Linked DNA regions of Homo sapiens: region 2 is linked to region 1. The links come from fine-mapping of genetic effects on gene expression. Tissue or cell type: whole blood. Region 1 holds a variant in brackets; the other region holds the start of a gene. All regions are shown on one strand. Distances are between the middles of the regions.

Region 1 (8,106 bases):
AGAGACATAAATATAATCCTCCTCTCTCATGCCAAAAATAACAAGGGGGCAGAGGTTAGATTCTAGAGGAAAGAACATTGAGTGTGAACTGAAACCTTTCTAGTTACAGATCTACCACTAAGTAGCTGTGTGACCTGGACAAGCCCCTTAATCTCTCTGCACTTCAGTTTCTTCCTTTGTAAAATGGCAGCATTGAGGCTTCCTGGGAACCCTGGCCTTGATATTTTCTAAGCATCTTTGAAGCTCTGAGGTTTTATGGCTCGGTGAATTGTAGAATCTGAGGAGACTGATTTATAAGCAAGTTGGCACGTTTTTTAAGCCCAGTCATTCCTTTGGTGTGTGCAAGGGAGAGCCCCTGCTCAGAGTGTCAGGAGCCATAGCACATTGGGATGTAGACTGAGCATGGCCCACTTCCCAGAGACCCCAAGGCCTGCCTTAGGCCCACCTCTGATGGTGGTGGTTGGTTGGTGGTGGTTAGTTGGTTAAATGAAGGGTGAGATCCTGACCACTCACTAAATGCTGAACTCTTGATAGATTAGGAGGAAGCTCTGCTATCTGTGGGATGAGGCACAGCAGATGATGTGGTTTGGCTGTGTTCCCACCCAAATCTCATCTTGAATTCCCACATGTTGTGGGAGGGACTGGGTGGGAGATAATTGAATCATGAGGGCAGGTCTTTCCCATGCTGTTCTCATGATAGTGAATAAGTCTCATGAGATCTGATGGTTTTAAAAATAGGAGTTTCCCTGCACAAGCCCTCTCTGTGCCTGCTGCCATCCATGTAAGATGTGACTTGCTCCTCCTTGCCTTCCGCCATGATTGTGAGGCTTCCCAAGCCATGTGGAACTGTAAGTCCATTAAAGCTCTTTCTTTTGTAAATTAGCCAGTCTCGGGTATGTCTTTATCAGCAGTGTGAAAACAGACTAATACAGCAGATGTCAGATTGGTTCTTGGAATGGAAGGTAAGCGAACTCTAGTGTTTACTGAAGACAGGGCCTATGTAGGGATTGGCAGGGTAGGGTGGTAGGCCCTATTTAGCAGTACAGAGACTGACCCAAGGCACTTTTCTTGCTGAGTTCAACCTTCTTTTGCAACCCTTTCTTCTGGCAAGTGCTTTCTGCCCAGTGGGGAGGTGAAAGGGTCCCTCACCTTCATGAACCCCTTCTGTGTGAATATACCCTCCAATAAATCCTGGCTCTTCTTTCCATTTCCAATGACTACTTTGAGAAATTAGGATGTCAGTGGTTCATCTTGTCTCATGCAAGCCTGAATTATGTATTCTTTAAGAACAGTGACTATGATCCATCAGACTGTCTTCCACCTGTCATTCAGCATGGCTTTGGCTCTGAACTCTCCACCAACCTTTTTCCTTCCCTGCAACACACACATTCAAAACTAAAATAACCCATTACCACCACCACTAACAACCCCCCCCCCCAACCATCCCATTATAGATCATATCCTCCCAGGAAGTTTTTCTTTGTTCCTAAATTAATTCATACCAATGTGGTGATGGCCACTCAGGCTTGTTACTTGTCTACCTGCCCTACCACGACTCTAAATATGTATTTCCATTTTAACAGGAGATGTTGGATCCAATTTGTCAAAAACTATCTCATTAAAGGAACAAACTTGTTTCAGCATCAGACTTATGATGTGATATTTTTGTCTTAATCCCTCAAAGTACTGAGAGAAGGTTGGGTACTAGTGAAGTCAGAGCTATTAGGGGGCACCCTGGCTAATCAGGCCTTCCTCTGGGCCAGCAGTGCCATCCTATTTATACCTACAGTTTTAGCATTCAGAACAAAATCTTACTACACAAAGAAATTTATAGATTTAATGCAATTCCTATCAAAATACCAACGACATTCTTCATAGAAATAGAAAAAAAATCTTAAAATGTATATGGAACCACAAAAGACCCTAAATAGTCAAAGCAATCTTGAGCAAAAAGAAAGCTGGAGGCATCACACTACCAGACTTTAAAATATCCTACAAAGCTGTAGTAAGCAAAACAGCATGGCGCTGGCATAAAAACAAACACATAGAACACTGGAACAATAGAGAACCCAGAAATTAATCCATGTATCTATAACCAACTGTTTTTTGACAAAGGTGCCAAGAACCCTTATTGATAGTCTCTTCAATAAATGGTTGAGGCAAAACTGGATATTCATATGCAAAAGCATGAAACTAGATTCCTGACTTTCATCCTATACAAAAATCAACTCAAAGTGGATCAAAGACCTAAATGTAAGACCCAACCCTATAAAACTACTAGAAGAAAACATGGGGAAATGCTTCAGGACATGGGTCTGGGAAAAGATTTTATAAGACTTCAAAAGCATAGGCAACAAAAGTAACAATAAACAAATGGGATTATATCAAACTAAAAAGCTTCTACACAGCAAAGGAAATAATCAATAGAGTGAAAAGACAATCAACAGAATGAGAGAAAATATTTGTAAACTATTCATCCAACAAGGGATTATTATCTAGAACATACAAGGAATTCAAACACTTCAATAGCAAAAAAGCAAATAATTCAATTTAAAAAATGGGCAAATGGGCCAGGCATGGTGGCTCACACCTGTAATCCCAGCACTTTGGGAGGCCAAGGCAGGCAGATCATTTGAGGTCAGGAGGGTGGATCACTTGAGGTCAGGAGTTGGAGACCAGCCTGGCCAACATGGTGAAACCCCCTCTCTACTAAAAATATAAAAAATTATCCGGGTGTGGTGGTGGCACATGGGTGTAATCTCAGCTACTCGGGAGGCTGAGGCAGGAGAATGGCTTCAACCTGGGAGGCAGAGGTTGTAGTGAGCTGTGATCGTGCCACTGTACTCCAGCCTGGGTGACAGAGCAAGCCTGTCTCAAAAAAAATAAAAATAAATAAAATAAATAAATAAAAGGGCAAATGATCTGAACAGATATTTCTCAAAAGAAGACATACAAATGGATGGTCAACAAATATATAAAATAATGCTCAATATTACTAATCATCAGGGAAACACAAATCAAAACCATCAAGAAGTATCATCTCACTCTGGTTAGGATGCTATTATCAGAAACACAAAAAAATAACAAATGCTGGTGAGGATGTGGAAAAATGGAACTCTTATTCACTGTTGGTGGGAATGTAAACTAGTACAGCCACTATGGAGAAGAGTTGGAGGTTCCTCAAAAAACTACAAATAGAACTACCATATGATACAGCAATCCCACTACTGGGCATTTATTCAAAGGGAAAGAAATCAGTATATCAAAGAGACATCTGTGCCCCTATGTTTATTGCATCACTATTCACAATAGCCAAAATATGGACTCAACCTAGGTGTTCAATAACAGATGAATGGATAAAGAGAATGTGGTATACGTACACAATAGAACACTATTC[G/A]GCTATTAAAAAAAGAATGAAATCCAGTTATTTGAAGTAATGCGGATAGAATTGGAGCACATTATGTTAAGTGAATTAAGCCAGGAACAGAAAGTTAAATACTGCATGTTCTCACTCCTTTGTGGAAGCTAAGAAAAGTTGACTTCATAAAAGTAAAAAGTAAAACAGAGGATACTAGAGGCTTGAAGGGCAGAGGGAAGTGGGAGTTAGAGAGATGTTTATTAAATGATACAAAATTACAGCTAGATAGAAGGAATAAGTTCTAGAGTTCTATACCAGTGGTCCCCAACATTTTTGGCACCAGGGACTGGTTTCATGGAAGACAATTTTTCCACAGACCAGGGAGTGGGGGATGGTTTCAGGATGATTCAAGCGCATTACATTTATTATGCACTTTATTGCTATTATTATTACATCGTAATATTAATATGTAATGAAATAATCGTACAACTCACCATAATGTGGAATCAGTGGGAGCCCTAAGTTTGTTTTCCTGCAACTAGACAGTCCCATCTGGGGGTGATGGGAGACAGTGACAGATCATCAGGCATTAGATTCTCATAAGGAGCCTGGCATGTGCAGTTCACAATAGGGTTCGCACTCCTGTGAGAATCTAATGCTGCCATTGATCTGACAGGAGGCGGAGGTCAGGCCGTAATGTGAGCAATGGGGAGCAGCTGTAAATACAGATAAAGCTTCACTCAGTAGCCTGTTGCTTACCTCCTGCTGTGTGGCCCGGTTCCTAACAGGCCATAGACCGTTGTTATGCGACCATGGCTCAGGGGCTGGGGACCCCTGTTCTATACCACTGTAGGATGACTGGATGTAACAATATATAGCTTCAAATAGCTAAAACGGGCCAGGCACAGTGGCCCATGCCTGTAATCCCAGGACTTTGGGAGGCCGAGGCAGGCGGATCACTTGAGGTCAGGAGTTCGAGACCAGCCTGGCCAACATGACGAAACCCCATCTCTACTGAAAATACAAAAGTTAGCTGGGTGGGGTGGCATGCACCTGTAATCCCAGCTACTAGGGAGGCTGAGGCAGGAGGATTGCTTGAACCCAGGAGGCAGATATTGCAGTCAGGTGAGAGTGTGCCTTGGCAACAGAGCAAGACTCCGTCTAAAAAAAAAGTAGCTAAAAAATGGATATAGAATGTTCTTAACACAAAGAAATGAAAAATGAGAGAGCAGGACATCTGGTTTCTGAGTAGGAACCTTCACAGTGCCAGTGACAAAAGAGAGAATTAAATATGGGTGATGTTGAGAAAAGCACGAATATTTGTGTTCAGAAGTGTGCCCAGTGCCACACCACGGAAAAGGGAGGCAAGCACAAGACTGAGCCTAACCTCCATGGTCTCTTTGGGTGGAAGACAGGTGCCATTGGATTCTGCTACACAGACACCAGTAAGAACAAAGGCATCACCTGGGGAGAGGACACACTGATAGAGTATTTGGAGAATCCAAAGAATTAGATACCTGGAACAAAAATGATCTTTGGCGGCATTAAGAAGAAGGGAGAAAGGGCGGACTTGATAGCTTATCTCAAAAAAGCTGCTCATGAGAAATAATTGGCCACTGCGTTATTTATTACAAAAGAGAAATGTCTCATGAATTTTTTATATGTATCGTAATTTAATAGATTTCATACACCAGAATTCAAAAAGAAAAAAGAGAAATGGTAAATGAGATGATGGATATGCAAATTACCCTTATCTAATCACTGTATATTATATGTATCAAAACATCTCTATGTACCCCATGAATATATACAATTATTATATGTCAATTTAAAAAAAAGAACAAAATGTCACATTGCATTTGCCAGTCCCCCAGCTTTCATAATGTTATTTTGCTGTTTTGTTTCTGGGATCTTCTCTCTTTTTCCTTAAATCCTTACCCAGCCTCAGATGCTCCTAGCTCTGTACAGGCCTGAAACTGGAACGTGGAATCTTGACACCCTCTGAAAACTCCTCTGGATTTACCCGCCCTGTGCCCCTCCACACACCATTCCTATTCCCCTTACAGAGGCTCCTGCTCCTCACCCTCAAGCCCCAGGACATCATGGCCCAAGCTTAAAACAGGACCAGAGAAAGGGACCAGAATCCATCAAGTAAAACCAAATTCAGGTTAATAGCAGGAAACCAGCTGAAAATCTCAGGAGCTTCTGGATGTATATTACAAGGGGACAACTTTCTATTCCAGGAGTTTGCCAGCTCTGAATTTGGTCCCAGGCCAGTACTCTTTGCCACTCACCTATTTTATTTTTAAATTATTATTATTATTATTATTATTTATTATACTTTAAGTTCTGGATACATGTGCAGAACGTGCAGGTTTGTTACATAGGTGTACATGTGCCATGGTGGTTTGCTGCACCCATCAACCCATCATTTAGGTTTTAAGCCCCGCATGCATTAGGTATTTGTCCTAATGCTATCCCTCCCCCTGTCCCCCACCCACTGGCAGGCCCTGGTGTGTGATGTTCCCCTCCCTGTGTCCATGTGTTCTCATTGCCATCCTATTCTCTTACACAAGGTTGAGAATGTCTGTGAACAGGAACATTCCTCAATTCTCCCATCTTGGAAGTCAGCTTGATTCTTTGAATGTAAGGGTTAGAAGGGTCAGACTGGCCAGGTGCAGTGGCTCACACCTGTAATCCCAGCACTTTGGGAGGCCAAGGCGAGTGAATCACCTGAGGTCGGGAGTTCAAGACCAACCTGACCAACATGGAGAAACCCTCTTTCTACTAAAAATACAAAATTAGCCAGGCGTGGTGGCTAATTAATTCCAGTAATCCCAGCTACTTGGGAGGCTGAGGCAGGAGAATCTCTTGAACCCTGGAGGCACAGATTGCAGTGAGCTGAGATTGTGCCATTGCACTCCAGCCTGGGTCAACAAGAGTGAAATTCTGTCTCAGGAAAAAAAAAAAAAAAAAAAAAAGAGAAGGGTCAGACCCAGCCCTGGGACATCCTCAAATGTTGAGATGCTCTGGATTTTGATGGCCTGTACTGGCATTAACACACAACCATAGGCAAACTATGAAACAATTTGCACTGGTGTATAAAATATGGTGGCCAAGCTGAAGTAATAACATGAATAAACAAATAATATAAGGCAATATCTCTTAAGCTTGGAATTCTAAAAGCAATGGAGAGTCCCAAGGGAAAACAATACCACTCTTAACTATCTTATTCCTACTCCCACAGCCTGGGGCTGAGTCTTGGTGCTGGAGAGAAAGGAAAGAGCTGGCTTTCTTCCAGTCCCTCATTCATCTTGCCTGGCTCTGCCTGGTCCACACTTAAACTTGTTTGTTAGAAATATGGTCACTTTAGTCATCTTCTACCCAGTCATCAACTCACCCTTTCTGCTCCCTGATATGGATTTGGTAAAAGCCATGGCAAGTGCTCAGGAGAGGGAATCACCAGAAACCTTTGTTAGTCCAGAGTTTAGAGATTAAGGGTAAGCCTCATAGGGGTTGGGAGTCTTATGGGGACTACATAAGAGATTACTAACGAAGGAGGAAAGAGGCATATGAGGGCTGATGCTGAGGGAATCTGCTAACAGCAATCCAAGGTCATCCCTGCAGGTAGGTCTGTGGCTGAGTAGATTCCTGTAGAATAGATTCAGGTAGACTATGTTCAGCAACACTGGAGCAGTCAAGCAGGCTTTGTTCCTAACTTCACTTCTCTTATCAAGGAGCTTTATCATCATCTCTATGCTTCTAAAACCTCACTGCTGTTTCCCAGCTTATTACCCCAGAAACAGACTTGGGCCAGCATGGATGACAGAAAATGTTATTTGCTCAGCTCTCTGATTCCTATACTTGCCAGCAGCAATCACGACCGCCAGCACCAAAAGGACAGAGGGAGTCTGGGTCAGCCCTGCTTTATGCAAAACAAGGTATGGAAATCCAGATATTTTTCCCAAAATGATACATTTGGGAGGAGCATATGTATTTATTTGCTTATTTCATTTAAATTTTTCTTTCCAAAAACATCTCTGAAGGGTTTCTTTAGCTTTTACATGGTTCTATTTTTTTAAGTTATCTTTGGTATAAAATTATATCATCACTTTACCAAAAAATTTGGGAAAGAATTGAAAAAAGAAAATAATCACGCATGACTTCATTGTCAATACATCTGTCACTTGCTAGCATTTGGAATATTTCTTTCCTATCTTTTCTCCTATACACATTTTTTCTTATAAACATTAAAGATTCACTTTGTTTTAAAAAAAATTTTAAGTAGTTCATGCACATAATAAAAAGTATAAAAAGTGACAGTCCCTCTCCTCCACCCTTATCCCCAGTGACCACTTTAAGTCTTGTACATCTTTCCAGAAAATAACTTTTCTTTTCTTTCTTTCTTTCTTTTTTTTTTTTCTGAGATGAGGCCTCGCTCTATTGCCAGCCTGGAATGAAGTGGTGTGATCTCAGCTCACTGCAGCCTCCACCTCCTGGGTTCAAACTATTCTCCTGCCTCAGCCGCCCTAGTAGCTAGGATCACAGGCATCTGCCACCACGCCTAGCTAATTTTTGTATTTTTAGTAGAGATAGGGTTTTGCCATGTTGGCCAGGCTGGTCCTGAACTCCTAACCTCAGGTGATCTGCCTGCCTCAGCCTCCCAAAGTGTTGGGATTACAGGCGTGAGCCACCGTGCCCGGCCAAATAGCTTTGCATATAAGGTGTCTTGCTGGGGATGGGGGTTG
Region 2 (8,106 bases), 26 kb before region 1:
CAGACGAAAAGAAATGGTGCTGAGAGTGGCCTGGGTGATTCTGAGTGCCCAAGGACTCCAATACAGTAGTCCTGGATGGGAGAGTGGATTTCTTGAAGAAGATGCCCCACTGGTGGCTTGGCTCAGCCTAGGGAAGACCTGGACAAGGGTGCATATATGTGGCAGTGGAAGTGAGAAAATCCAGATGCTGTAGGCAGTAAGTACGTGTGGCTCTGAGGAGGGGATGGCTGCCATGTTTCTGACCTGGCTTAAGTGGAGGGTTGCCAGGCCGCCAGACCCACCACAGAGGAGAACACAGTTGGGTACCTCATCACCAAGAGTGCTCAAGGACCCCAGGTTGAGCTGCATCTTGACAGGCCAGTGTCCATGAGGAAGGGAGGATGGGCATCAAGCCTCTACCCTGTGGGGTTTGCTCTCTCACTCACCATCCAATAAACATTCAGTAAGCACCCAATTTATGCCAAACACAGCTGGGCACTGGGGATCCAGAAGTGAATAGGGCCGTGCCCACCCTCGAGAGCCCGAAGTCTAGAGGGGGAGACGGAGAAGTAAACACAATTGCAGCACAGGTAAGGGATGTGACAATAGAAGAATACAGAAGGTGCCATGGGAGCCCTGAGGCATGGCTGCTAGGGAAGCCTGGGCTGAGACACAGGGGCTGGAGGTCTGAGCTTCTGGGCTCTGCCTGACTCAAAAGCCAGCCAACTGCTGCCCTGAGTGGGAAAAGGACCAGCGAGGAAGGAGGTGGGCGGCACTGAATATTCCTGACAACACATGGCCAAGCTGAGAAAGCAGGCACCACCCCAATATCTGCACGGAGCTGTCCTGCAGAGGGAGGTGAGGAGAGGCAGCTGCTCTGTAGCCACCCTAACTGATTTAAATGCAACATCTAGGATCTTAGAGCAGCTACTCCAGGCCATGGAATCCCCACAGTCAGTAACCCAGCAACATGATTCTGGGAAGAAAATCAGAACTCCCAGGTCAAAGGGGAAGTGAGATTTGAAACATGAACAGTAGGAACTGGTCCCAGTCCCCCAAAATTCATTAGTTTTCTGAGTCAGACTCCAAATGCCCCAAGAGTCAGGGCTTCTAGAGCAACAGCAGACGTAGCCACCATCACCACCAGCACCACTATTCAGAGCCCAGAGGATGCCGGACACCTTCCTAGTGGGTTCCAGGCACAGACACAATAACCACTGCCATGCGGCAGCTCCAGAAGCCGGCCAGAGCATGCACTCTGCCTGCAAAGGGTGTGGGCTGACCATCATCTCATCCATAGGTGCTTCCTGGGCAGAAGAGCAGAATTTGATTAGGATGGTGGAAGTCTACAAAAAAGAAAGCATGGGAACCAGTCCCTGAAGAGGAGCTAGGAAGAAAGATGGCCCCCTGATCTGGGGAGGCAGCATTTTCTCTCCAGCTGCTCTTGTATGAATATACCTGTGCAGCACTGGGTTTGGGGGAGAAGGGACATTCAATAACACCTGAAAAGTACTGTCCCCTAGGAAGGGCAATCAGGACACAGGGAGATTCATCCTTAGATCCAGCTCTAGGTCTTGAAGAAAGAAAACAGTCCCCAAAATGATTCATTCATCCTTAAATAGTTCACTGAGGCAGAAATTGTTTCTCCTTTAGAGGAGAAAGATTAAGGTCAGAGAGACAGATACATTGGCTTAGGGTCACACAGTAAGTTGGTGCCAAAAAGATGCTGAGCCTCTTGTCTTTCAGTGTGCTATTTCTAGAGCCTCTGATTTTTTATGAGTCTACTGTAGGGCCAAGAAGGGGCTCTATTCTAATTTGGGGTGGTGCTAGCTTGGCCACCCACGTCTTCTGACCTTGAATGAAGCATTTTTACCAAGGTAAATGGGTCTGTGGAGCCAAACTCTCTCCTGGCTGAGATCTCTCAAAGTCGTTTGTCCGATAAAAGGGGGGTAGGGTGGAGGTAGGGGGTAGGGAAGCTCGAGAAAAAAAAAATGACCAGGAACACAAGTGTAACAGATGCACCCAGCTGTTGTCACTGGCGAGCACAGACAAGGGTGAGGTACCAATGGCTCCAAGGGAGACAGTCTCGGCAGATAAAGGAAGTCAGAGTGACGACCTAAAGTCCCTGAAATGCTAGTGCTGGCTCCGAGGATGTCACGTCACTGGCCTGGCACACTCAGTGAGCACAGAGACTTCACTGATACTTGCCCCTAAGTGGGGAGTCTCTTAGTACATCCCCCAGCACTGGTAGAGTGGTAAGGGATTTTCTTGTGTTTTTCCCTAACCTCCAGCTGAAGCAGAACCTAGACTATGGGAACTTGGGTTGACTGGTTAACTACTAATACTGCCCATACCCCAGCTATAGCAGCAGCCATCTGTGCTGAGGACTTCCCCCAGCGGCACTGTGGTTCAGTAGAAAGGTCACCAGACCAAGCCTGCTAACCAGCTGTTGGACCTTGGACAAAACATTTAACATCTCTGTGCTTTAGTTTTCTACATTTTATAGACATAAACACAGATGCTGGACAAGATGTCTTCTAAAATTTTTTTCCAGTTTTACAACTGAGCATTTGATAGGAGCACAAGTTTCATTTTCCCCAGGAGTAGGATGGCTGAGTGCGCTGTCATCACCACCCTATGGGATTTCTCTCATTTGTCCCAACAGGCCAGCACTTATGGGCTTTGTGTCTGCACCTCACCCCACGGGCCCTGTGAAACCTTTCCAGCAAATGGCTTAGATGTCTGTTCTGCTCCCTCCCCTAGGAAACATATTTTAGACTCAATTCTTCCCTCCTGCAAGTCTGAACTTTAGGTCTCCAGCTGAAGTGGGCAAGGATGGTGGGCTCCAGAAGCAGCAGCTCTGGTGTGGTAGGAGCCAGAAGAGGAGGTGAATGGGGGAAGGATGTCCCTATGTTCTCACACCCCAGGACCTCCAGGACTCTCTAGCCAGGAAACAGGGTCGAGCTGGCATTGCATGATCTGGTTCAGCTCAATTCTCAGCTTCAGCAGTCTTTCTGCCACCCCTGATCACACTGGGTTGGATTTGTGGGGGAGGGAGTCAAGGCCTGCAGACATGAACATACATGCTTAGGTCGGTCAAGTCAACAATGAACGGCAGAGTGGGATGGGAATCCAGGTGTCCGGAGTCCCAGCCCAATACTTTTTCCACCCCAAGCAGAAGATTCTGAAAGGACCCCTGGCCCTCCGGCCCAACACGGGGTCCTGTTTAAAGACACTGGTGATTGCCAGGCTCCAGGGGTGAAGTCTGGTCCTGAGAAGGGTGGCAGGGAGGGGACAAAGTTTGGGGCAGTGCTGGGATGGGAAAGACATCTGCACCTGGAGGCCATTCTTCCTAGACTTTGGGGGGGTGGAGGTGGGGGTAGATGAGGCCTGCAAAAGGAAGAGATGATGCCAGTAACCCATCCTCTCTGAGGTGGTGGAGAGAGAGGTTTGGGTTTTTCCTTCCTCTTCTTTCTTTGCCAGCCGGGCCTCCAGGCCCCCAGGCCTGAAAGTCAGCCGCCACCCCCGACCCCCATCATGAATGTGTCAGTGGGTCCGCCTTGGGCCAACAGGCTCCCTCAAACCCACATTTCTAGCCTAACACAGACCCTCCTCCGACGCCCCGAGAATACCCATCAGTCTTTACTGATTCCCTGGCATACCCTCCTCCCTACAACGCCCCCTGCAGACGCGGCGTCCCCGGGGTGTCCCTCCCCAGGATAAATTCCCCCAAAGTGCCGTCAGCCCAGAAAACTCGGCAGTGCGGCTCCCGCGCGTGGGGCACCCCGGGCCACCCTTCCACCCCGCGGGGGGACCCCGCCGCCCAGGTGCCCTCGACCCCGAGACTCACCCAGAAGAGCATGTTGAAGAAGAAGAGCAGGTATTTCACCAGCGGGCTGACGAAGGAGAACTCCTCCCCGGAGGCGGCCGGCGCCCGGGGTCTCCGCGCCATGGCCCCGCCGCCGCCACCGCCCCCGGGGGCCTATTTCCCAGCGGCTGCCGGCCGGCCTGTGTGCCCCGCGCCCGGGGGCATGAGCCGAGCCGCGCCGCGCAGGAGCCCGGCCGGCGGGGGAGCCTGCGCTGCGGCGGGAGGCGCCCGAGCCGGGGGGCCGGGAGCGGCGCGGGCCGGGGAACCGCGCCTGGAGCTGCTGGAGCCGCGGTGGGCAGCGCGAGCGGACGAGACTCACCCGCGGCCGCAGGACCAGCCCGGCCAGCCAGGCGCCCAGGAAACCCGGCCCGCCCCCGGCCGCTCATTGGCGCGACGGCTGGAGCCCGACTTCCCATTGGCTCGTGGCTGATGTCACTAAGTATCCAGCCATCCCTCTCCACCGAGAGTCGGGGGAGACACCTGTTCTGTGAGGGATAACTTGTTAAAGGGTCAGCGGTTCTGCCTCTCCCCTACCCCTAAGGGAAAGCATCCAGGCTGCAGCTGCTCAAAGGAACAAGAGTGAGGAGAAGGAATGCACAGTGCATCCCACACCCACGTCCTCCGCCCAGCTGCTGTGCACATATGCAAACACACATACATTAAAATCAACAAGTACGCACACCGTGTGTTGAGCAATGCGCCGAAAGCTCTGGGAACGCGGGAGAACAGAAACAATCCCTGGGGGATGACAATAAAATCAGGGAGACAAAACTAACCTACACATAACAATTAGACCAAGGGTAGATGCAATCTTGTTTAGTAACTATACATTTTAAATGCTTATTTCAGAAGCTCTACAACCCAACAGTGGAAATTTGGAAACATCACCGCCAATCCCGCCATCCTAATTCATTGCTGTCTCAATTCCCGCCCCCGCAGCCCCTCTTCCCTTGGTCTACTTGCAGACACCGTTTTTAACATGCTGATCCGGCACACACAGGTTGAGTGCAGCGTAGCTGGCGAATATATTATGCTGGCTACCCTAACTAATACAAGTTGAACCTCGGGGAGGGAATCTGATTCCACCATAATTAGCTGCGTGAAAGCTGCAAGCTACTTAATCTCTCGGAGCCTCAGTTTGTTTAATGTTAAATGGGAGAGTCCTGACCTAGATGGCGATTTGAGGATTAAATGAGATAATGCATGTAGCTCACTTAGCACATGGCTGGCACATGGAAGGCTCATCAAAGGCATTACAGTATTTCGTTTTAGCAGAATTAAGAATCCAGTGTGGAAATATGATAACCGCACAAATAATTATAATACGTTTGGTAGAAGGTTAGTGAAGATAGCGTGGCAAGTGAAATTAGGGGAGGATGGGATTTAGAATAGTAGAGACGGAGGGGAAACATAATCCAGGTGGATTAAAAAAAAAGGGGGTGAACCAAAGCCTGGAGGTGCAAAAGCACGCCATGTGTTTCGTGCAAAATAAGCAGACTGCTGTGGCTGGAGCACAGGGTATGCTTGGAATAGCAGTGGGACATAATGCTGACCGATGCCGTTACATGTGGAATTGTGTTAAAACTGCGGAAGTAATTGAATATCAGATTGGGGAGTTAGTGCTTAATTGACTTGGAAATAAGAGTTTTGGAGAAAAGGATGATGGAAAACCCATGGTTTTCAGTTGGAGTGGGAAAGAGGCTGGAGAGAGAAAGATTTGTTAGAAGCATGCTGCTCATCATCCAGATAATCAGAAATCAGGAACTGATTTAGGAGTAATAGACAGAATAATAGATGGTTAGGAGAGGATAGAAGGGAAGGCATTGGAAAGATAGAATCTCTAGGGCTAGGCTGTGGTGACAAGCAGGCATAACAGGAGCACCAAGAGTGGAGGTTAAAGAAGGCAGTCACAGCCAGGTTACTGGGAGATTACTGGCCCTTAACAGGTTAAGTGACACTGGAGATCAGTTTTAGTATAAAGCAGGTAGGGTGGGCAGAAGTCATTTTCCAAGAGGTTAATGAGTGAATAGGTAGGTGCCATTTTCAGATGTTAGTGCGGGGAGGATAGAGAAATAGACCAAGATGCTGAATGTTTCTATTAGATGATCTTCCAGAAATCAGTTTTATTTTTTTGAAACGGAGTCTCACTCTGTCGCCCAGGCTGGAGTGCAGTGGCCTGATCTCAGCTCACTGCAACCTCCGCCTCCCTGGTTCAAGCGATTCTCCTGCCTCAGTCTCCCAAGTAGCTGGGATTACAGGCGCCCGCCACCATGCCTGGCTAGTTTTTGTATTTTTAGTAGAGATGGGGTCTCACCATGCTGGCCAGGATGGTCTGAACTCCTGACCTTAGGTGATCCACCTGCATGGGCCTCCCAAAGTGCTGGGATTACAGGCATGAGCCACTGTGCCCAGCCAAGAGATCATTTTTAATTGAGACGGGAAGAAGAAGGAATATCACAGTGTCAAGGAAGGAATGGGTGGTGAAATGGAAGCTGTGAACGAAACTGTGGACATCTCTGTCTGGCTTTGAAGGTTATGGGAGCCTTAAGGGACTTCAGAGTGAAGGGAAAGTTCTCTGTTAGCATATAAGAGACCTAACATGTTCGTAGGAAACAAAACAAAACAAAACAAAACAAAACAGTCAAGAGGGATTAAGGTGGATAATGGCTGGAATGAGGTTTTGGAATTAACAGGTAGAGATGGGATTAGCCTTCAAAGTGATGACCACAATGTCCCTCATGTGGAAGTCACGGACGGCATCACAAAGTAGGAAGCCATGCAGCTATAGAACAAAGAATTAGGAAACTCTCTCTGTACTGAGTTGGAACGATCTCCAAGTTAACTCATTACGTTTAAAAAGCAAAATGAGGCCGGGGTGGCTCATGCCTGTAATCCCAGCACTTTGGGAGGCCGAGGCAGCCAGATCACGAGGTCAGGAGATCAAGACCATCCTGGCTAACACGGTGAAACCCTGTCTCTACTAAAAATACAAAAAAATTAGCCGGGTGTGGTGGCGGGCACCTGTAGTCCCAGCTACTCGGGAGGCTGAGGAAGGAGAATGGCATGAACCTGGGAGGCGAAGGTTGCAGTGAGCCGAGATCGCACCACTGCACTCCAGCCTGGGCGGCAGAGCAAGACTCCGTCTCAAAAAAAAAAAAAAAAAAAAAGCAACAAGTGGGACAGTGGATACAATATATCACATTCTGGTTAAAGAGAAAGAGAGAAAACAAAAATAAGGAATAACATTTATATTTGCTTCCCTCTGCCTAAATAAACTCTGGAAGGAAACGTAAGACATTAAGAAAGGAGGTTACATACTGGGATGGTGATGAGAACTGAAAAGAGAGGAGAGAGACTTTTCACTGTGTGCCATTTTATTCTTTGTTTTTTTTTTGTTTTTTTTTCTTTGCAGCATAAAGTGTATTAATGATTCAAAATGAAAAAATTACACAAATTGAAAAATCAAAAAGAATTTAAAAATTGGAAAAATGTATCTTTACTATAGAATGCTACGCAGCCATTTAAAATAACATAGAAAACATATGTACTGACTTGCAAAAAGGTCCATGACATATGAGGTGCAAAAATCAGGTTGTAGAATAAAGTATACAGAGTATCTGACAATCAGTGAATAGTTTCAACTTATTTCAAGTCCTTGGAAAAGGTATTCAGTTCTTTGGAATACATAATGTGGCCATTTAAAATGGAATTCAATGGAAAAGGTATTTCAGTTATGTGGAATATATAATGTGGCCATTTAAAATGGAATTCAAAGCAGAAGTGGTGGCTCATGCCTGTAATCCCAGCACTTTGGGAGGCCAAGGTGGGCAGCTGACTTGAGGCCAGGAGTTTGAGACCAGCCTGGCCAACATGGCAAAACTCTATCCCTACTAAAAATACAAAACTTCGCTGGGCGTGGTGGTGTGCACCTGTAATCTCAACTACTTGGGAGGCCGAAGCACAAGAACTGCTTGAACCCAGGAGGTGGAGGTTGCAGTGAGCCAAGATTGCACCACTGCACTCCAGCCAGGGTGACAGAAATTCTGTCTCCAAAAACACACACAAAAAAAACAAAAGAAAACAAACAAACAAAAAATGGAACCCAAAAAACTTATGTAATAGTATGTAAGATTTTAACAATATAAACATATTCACAGTAAGAAATATGGGCCAATTTCAACAGAGATGAAAAAATATAAAAGTAAAATCAGCTGTGTTGTTGTGACGGGACATGTAGCAATTTTTAGCTTAAAAATATA

The links. PIP is the estimated chance that this variant, and not a neighbour inherited with it, causes the effect.
Region 2: it holds the start of TSPAN33, and the variant in region 1 is fine-mapped to the expression of TSPAN33 in whole blood (INTERVAL, PIP 0.98).

The regions. Positions count from the first base shown.
Region 1 is chr7:129,114,371-129,122,476 of GRCh38, reverse strand. It overlaps the pseudogene CYCSP20. Among named protein-coding and RNA genes, the nearest start is that of TSPAN33, 26 kb to the left of the region's middle. RefSeq lists an enhancer at 73-242. The variant G/A (reference allele first, on the strand shown) is at 3,398.
Region 2 is chr7:129,140,806-129,148,911 of GRCh38, reverse strand. TSPAN33 (tetraspanin 33) reads right to left here and starts at 4,205. Exons shown (of 8, transcript NM_178562.5): 1 at 3,830-4,205. The coding sequence starts at 3,931. RefSeq lists an enhancer at 1,171-1,220 and a silencer at 4,083-4,292.